Linked DNA regions of Homo sapiens. The protein of the gene in region 1 purifies or fractionates together with the protein of each later gene. This does not show direct contact. Each region holds a gene or a part of one and is shown on either strand. Other genes may lie near its edges.

What was found. Proteins that work in one complex are often made in the same cells at the same time.
Region 2: the proteins of RAB8A (region 1) and WDR81 purify together in Homo sapiens (co-immunoprecipitation; 2 studies listed by IntAct). This does not show direct contact.

Annotation. Positions count from the first base shown.
Region 1 is NC_000019.10:16,128,889-16,131,811, forward strand, and holds part of RAB8A (ras-related protein Rab-8A), read left to right. Parts: intron 1-665; coding exon 666-716; intron 717-2,923. UniProt on the Homo sapiens protein: The small GTPases Rab are key regulators of intracellular membrane trafficking, from the formation of transport vesicles to their fusion with membranes.
Region 2 is NC_000017.11:1,727,704-1,731,203, forward strand, and holds part of WDR81 (WD repeat-containing protein 81), read left to right. Parts: coding exon 1-923; intron 924-2,676; coding exon 2,677-2,784; intron 2,785-3,051; coding exon 3,052-3,242; intron 3,243-3,364; coding exon 3,365-3,500. UniProt on the Homo sapiens protein: Functions as a negative regulator of the PI3 kinase/PI3K activity associated with endosomal membranes via BECN1, a core subunit of the PI3K complex.

The sequences.
Region 1 (2,923 bases):
CTCTCCTCTCCAGAACCTCCCACATCATGGGGATGTATGTTGGGATCACGCCTCCCGCCATCTCTGTATGTCCCCTCCTCAAGGCTGTGACAGCAGCTCAACCCTTGGCTGTGCTGGGAGATGAACCTGCTCCCGCTCCCAGCCCTGCCAGGCAAGGACTCCGAGTGAAGCTTGTTTGGCCACAGAGCTGCTTGCCTTTTTCCCTGACCATCAGAAGGGAGGCCAGAGCTGACAGAACCTAGGAGTCAGAGACAAAGAACTGGGCACTCCTAGATCCTTCTGGATTGGTCGGTTAACTGCTGGGTTCCTTTGGACAAGTCACTTGGCCTCTCTGAGCCTCAGTTTCCTCTCTGGCCAACTGAGTGTCGCCCCATCTCACAGGGCTTAGGGGAGGTGGCACATGCGTAAAGTCCCGTCAATGCTAAGGTGCTCTGCGGAAGTGAGAGTTGATGTCAGAGAGTAAGGGTGGGTGGGAGGCAGAGGGAGCCGGGGAAGGATGAGCTGGGGCCGGACAGGCCAGATGAACCCACTGCCAGAGGCGGGCATCAAAGGGCCAAATGGGAGGCCCACGCCTGGGAAGCTGTCTCACCACACCCGCTGTACACGGGCGGCTGAGGACTCAGGGTCCTGCCATCCCAAGGACTCACAATGTGCTTATTCCACAGGCATTTTTCACTCTCGCCAGAGATATCAAAGCAAAAATGGACAAAAAATTGGTGAGTGTGTGTCCTTCCGAGATCCCCGGGTGGATCTCTGGGATCCAGCCATCGTCGTTAGCAGCAGTGATATGACGTGCCCTAGATCCTGCTTTTTAGGGCCCAGCCAGACCCCATGGGACATTGCTGGGAAAGGGGGAAGAGTTTGCAGGTGTGGCTGGGGCATCAGCATCAGGCAGTGCCAGCCTGGGGACGCTGCCCAAGCAGACAAGGCCGTGCCCGGTGAATCCCCAGGCTAGCAGGGAGCACACGGCCTTTTCCATTCCACTCAAGGGCCAGAAAGACAACATGGTGTGCAAGGACAGAGAGCCATGGCTCGGAGAAAAGCTTCCTAGGTCGCTTGGGCAGGGCCAGGGCTGGTGTCTGATAACTGCTGGCTCATCGTCTTGACAAGCATGGCAGATCAAGAACCTGCCCCCGCTCCACCCCAGCCCCAGATGCTACAAGTTGTGACAGCTCTGCAACCTTCATTGTGTCCCAGGGTTCTCTGAGGCCTCCAGGGAAGTCTGCATGAATCCCTACCCATCTACCCTCTCATTCGTTTCTTGCTTTTTTTTTTTTACCACGTTAGCGATTTCCTAGTCCGCTGCGCTCAGTATCAATGGTGCTTTCTTGATGGAATCAAACACTTCCCTGTACTTTGGGGGCATTTAGTGCCTAAACACCGTAGTGACCCTTCCTCCCTCGCCCTGGTTCCAGCAACTGCCCTTTCCCGGCCATGTTACATTGGTTGTCCAATCGAGGAGCACACGGCGCTCTATTTGTGGGTTAAGTCTGGTCACTTGAGAATGCACATAAAATACAAAATGCCGTTCAAGTTTTACATCTGATGTAAGCAAATCTGTTTTGTAATTCTAAGATGCGGTGTGTTGAACAGTGAGGCATGTGATTGATTTAATAGCAGCTCTTTGGCCATTAAATTAAAATGGGAAACAGTTCATGGAAACCAGTGCACTGACCAACAATAATTTGGGATTTTCTTGCAATTTTTTTTCTTCAGTATAATGGTCAAGGTCTGATTCTTTTTTCTTTTAGTTTTCTTATTAGTTAAAAAAGAGATTTTTTTTTTAGAGTCTCACTTTGCCACCTAGGCTGGAGTGCAGTGGCACCATCACAGCTCACTGCAGCCTTCAACTCCTGGGCTCAAGCAATCCTCCCACCTCCGCCTCCCAAGTAGCTGGGGCTATAAGCACACACCACCATGCCTGGCTAATTTTTTTTCTTTTTCTTTTTTTTTGAGAAGGAGTCTCGCTCTGTTGCCCAGGCTAGAGTGCAATGGTGCAATCCCTGCTCACTGCAACCTCTGCCTCCCAGGTTCAAGCGGTTCTTCTGACTCAACCTCCCGAGTACTTGGGATTACAGGCACATGTCACCACGCCCAGCTAATTTTTGTATTTTTAGTAGAGACGAGGCTTCACCATGTTGGTCAGGCTGGTCTTGAACTCCTGACCTCAGGTGATCCACCTGCCTCGGCCTCCCAAAGTGTTGGGATTACAGGTGTGGGCCACCCCGCCTGGCCATTTTTTCTTTTTTAAGAGGCAGGATCTCACTTGTTACCCAGGCTGGACTCAAACTCCTGGGCTCAAGCAGTTCTTCTGCCTCAGCCTCCCAAAGTGCTGGGAAGGGTATGATGGGGTGGGCAGATAAGTGAGAGAGTGGTTGGAAGGGGTGGTATATAGCAGATGGAAAATAGATCTGTTTCTGAAAAACGAATTATCAGTTGTAAGAGAATTGGATGGATGGGTAGAAGATAATGGATGGATGGTTGGTTGAAAGGGAATAAATCGATGGTTGATTTGTTGGAAGGAGATGGTTGGATAGATAGATGATTGGTTTGTTGGTTGGTTGGAAGGGGATGGATGAATGGTTGGTTGGAAGGAGGTGGTTGCTTGGAAGGGGATGGATGGATGGTTGATTGGTCAGAAGGGGTGGTTAGAAGGAGATGGTTAGTTGGAAGAGGGTGGATGGGGGGAAGGAGATGGATGGGTGGATGGATGGTTGGAAAGGGATGGATGGATGGTTGGTTGGATGAGGTGGTTAGAAGGGGATGGATGGTTGGTTGGTTGGTTGGAAGGGGATGGATGGTTGGAAGAAGATGGATGGTTGGAAAGGGATGGATGAGTGGATGGTTCTTGGTTGGAAGGGATGGATGGTTGGTTGATTGGTTTGTTGGTTGGAAGCAGGTGGATAGACGGATGGAAGGGAAT
Region 2 (3,500 bases), on another chromosome or scaffold:
CATCACCCCTGAGGGCCTGGAGATCCTGCTGCCCTTCGTGCTCTCACTCATGTCCGAGGAGCACACAGCTGTGTACACGGCCTGGTATCTGTTTGAGCCTGTTGCCAAGGCACTGGGCCCCAAAAATGCCAATAAGTACCTCCTGAAGCCGCTCATTGGTGCCTACGAGAGCCCCTGCCAGCTACACGGCCGCTTCTACCTGTACACGGACTGCTTTGTGGCCCAGCTGATGGTGCGGCTGGGCCTGCAGGCATTTCTCACTCACCTGCTGCCCCATGTCCTGCAGGTGCTGGCGGGCGCAGAGGCCTCCCAGGAGGAGAGCAAGGACCTGGCAGGGGCTGCTGAGGAGGAGGAGAGCGGGCTGCCCGGGGCCGGGCCTGGCTCCTGTGCTTTTGGGGAGGAGATTCCCATGGATGGGGAGCCTCCTGCCTCCTCGGGCCTGGGGCTCCCAGACTACACGTCTGGCGTCAGCTTCCACGACCAGGCTGACCTCCCTGAGACAGAGGACTTCCAAGCCGGGCTCTATGTGACTGAGTCTCCCCAGCCCCAGGAGGCTGAGGCTGTGAGCCTGGGCCGGCTGAGTGACAAGAGCAGCACCAGCGAGACCTCCCTGGGTGAGGAGCGGGCTCCAGACGAGGGGGGTGCCCCCGTGGACAAGAGCAGCCTTCGATCAGGTGACAGCAGCCAGGACTTGAAGCAAAGCGAGGGCTCCGAGGAGGAAGAGGAGGAGGAGGACAGCTGCGTGGTGCTAGAGGAGGAGGAGGGGGAGCAGGAGGAGGTCACCGGGGCATCTGAGCTCACTCTGTCTGACACGGTGCTGTCCATGGAGACGGTTGTGGCCGGCGGCAGTGGGGGAGATGGAGAAGAAGAGGAGGAGGCACTGCCTGAGCAGTCAGAAGGCAAAGAACAGAAGATCCTCCTTGGTAAGTTCCCAGGTCTGGGAGGTGTTGGTCAAAAACACCTCCTGCTGGCCGAGCACAGTGGTTCACGCCTGTATTCCCAGCACTTTGGGAGGCTGAGGCGGGCGGATCACAAGGTCAGGAGATCGAGACCATCCTAATAACAAGGTGAAACCCCGTCTCTACTAAAAATACAAAAAAATAGCCGGGCGTGGGGGCAGGCACCTGTAGTCCCAGCTACTCGGAAGGCTGAGGCAGGAGAATGGCGTGAACCCGGGAGGCGGAGCTTGCAGTGAGCCGAGATCGCACCACTGCACTCCAGCCTGGGCGACAGAGCGAGACTCCATCTCAAAAAAACAAAACAAAACAAAAAAACAGCTCCTGCTTCTCCCTGCACACTGGCAGAGCACCTACTCTGTGCCAAGCAGTGGATCGAGCCAGGACCACCGGCAACACAAATGTAGGCCTGCCTTCACAGAGCTCACACCCAGCAGACGAGATGCCGCAGTGCAGACAGTCTTAAGCAAGTGTATTATGTTAGTGCGATAAAGAACATGGCTGCATTCCTAGGAGGGAGTGCAACATGGAGCTTTTCGGCCGGGCGCCGTGGCTCACGCCTCTAATCCCAGCACTTTGGGAGGCCGAGGCAGGAGGATCACTTGAGGTTAGGAGTTCGAGACCAGCCTGGCCAACATGGTGAAACCCCATCTCTACTAAAAATACAAAAATTAGCCAGGCGTGGTGGCGGGCACCTGTAATCCCAGCTATTCAGGAGGCTGAGGCAGGAGAATTACTTGAACCCAGGAGGTGGAGGTTGCAGTGAGCTGAGATCACACCACTGCACTGCAGCTTGGGCAACAGAGCGGGACTCCGTCTCAAAAAAGAAAAAAAAAATGGTGCTTTTACATCTAGTTTTCAAGGGTCAGAGCAGGCTTCCTTAAAAGGAGAGACAGTTGAGGTTCAAGGAGGAGTAGGAAGAAGGTAGACAAAAATGGGCAAAAAGAAAGTCTGAAGGCTGAGGGAACAGCATGTGTGAGGCTCTGAGGCTGTCATGTTCCATTAAAGAAGAGAAGCGGGGGACCGGGCGCGGTGCTTCACGCCTGTAATCCCAGCACTTTGGGAGGCTGAGGCGGATGGATCACAAGGTCAGGAGATTGAGACCATCCTGGCCAATATGGTGAAACCCCATCTCTACTAAAAATACAAAAACTTAGCTGGGCATGGTGGAGGGTGCCTGTAATCTCAGCTATTTGGAAGGCTGAGGCAGGAGAATCGCTTGAACCCGGAGGTTCAAGGAGGAGAGTCAGGGCGGTGGAAGGTGGAGGTTGCAATGAACTGAGATTGTGCCATTGCACTCCAGCCTGGGCAACAGTGCGAGACTCTGTCTCAAAAAAAAAAAAAAAGAAGAAGAAGAAGAAGAGAAGCAGGGAAAGGCCGTTATGGCGAGACCGAGGGAGTGGAGGGAAGAGAGGCCAGAGGGAAGGTGGCCAGGGCCGGGCCAGGCCTTGTTAAGGAGTTTCAGAAGACCCACGGGCAGGCTAACTTCCTGCGGGTCGTGCCTGTGGAGAGGAACCTGCGGCAGCCAGAGTCCCACAGGCCAGGGCCTGGGCACCTCTGCCGCTGTTACGTGGAGGGGGTGGTGTGGGACAGCCGGCCCGGGCTGGGCTCTTGGCAGAGCTGCAGCCGCAGGTGGTTGAGTGGGGTGCCGTGGGGTGGGGTGGGAGGGGTGATGAGCCCCTGTTATCTGAGGAGCTCAGGGCCTGCTCCCACCCCGCAGATACAGCCTGCAAGATGGTCCGCTGGCTGTCTGCCAAGCTCGGCCCCACAGTGGCCTCTCGCCACGTGGCCCGGAACCTGCTCCGCCTGCTGACGTCTTGTTATGTTGGTAAGGAGGCCTGCGGTCAGTGCTGGAGATGAGGCTTTCTCCCAGGCCCTCTGCCTAGCTTCAGCGCTCTCCGGCGGGGATCCTTCCCACCCCTCCCTCAAACCACCCCCCGGCCAGGTGCTGGGTCCCAGTCTAAGTGCCAGCCTTGGGTAGGGCCAGGCTGGGCCCCCAGCTAGAGTGAGCTCAAGCGGCCAGCACAGCCCTGCAGGGCCAGGCTACCCCCGGCCCTCCACTGGCGACTCAGGGCTGCTGGCCCTTCCGTGGCAGGACCCACTCGGCAGCAGTTCACAGTGAGCAGTGGCGAGAGCCCACCGCTGAGCGCCGGCAACATCTACCAGAAGAGGCCGGTCCTGGGCGACATCGTGTCAGGGCCTGTGCTCAGCTGCCTCCTCCACATCGCCCGCCTGTATGGGGAGCCTGTCCTCACCTACCAGTACCTGCCCTACATCAGCTACCTGGTCAGTCGCTGGTTTGGCAGGCCCGGGGCTGGGAAGGCTGAGGACCTGAGGGCCGGCCCGGGCTCTCTTGGTGCCAGGGGGTCTGTGGGGCTGCCCGGCCCTCATCTGCTCGGTGGCTCTAGGTGGCCCCAGGGAGTGCCTCAGGCCCCAGCCGACTGAACAGCCGTAAGGAGGCGGGGCTGCTGGCCGCGGTGACGCTGACTCAGAAGATCATCGTGTACCTCTCAGACACCACACTCATGGACATCCTGCCCCGGA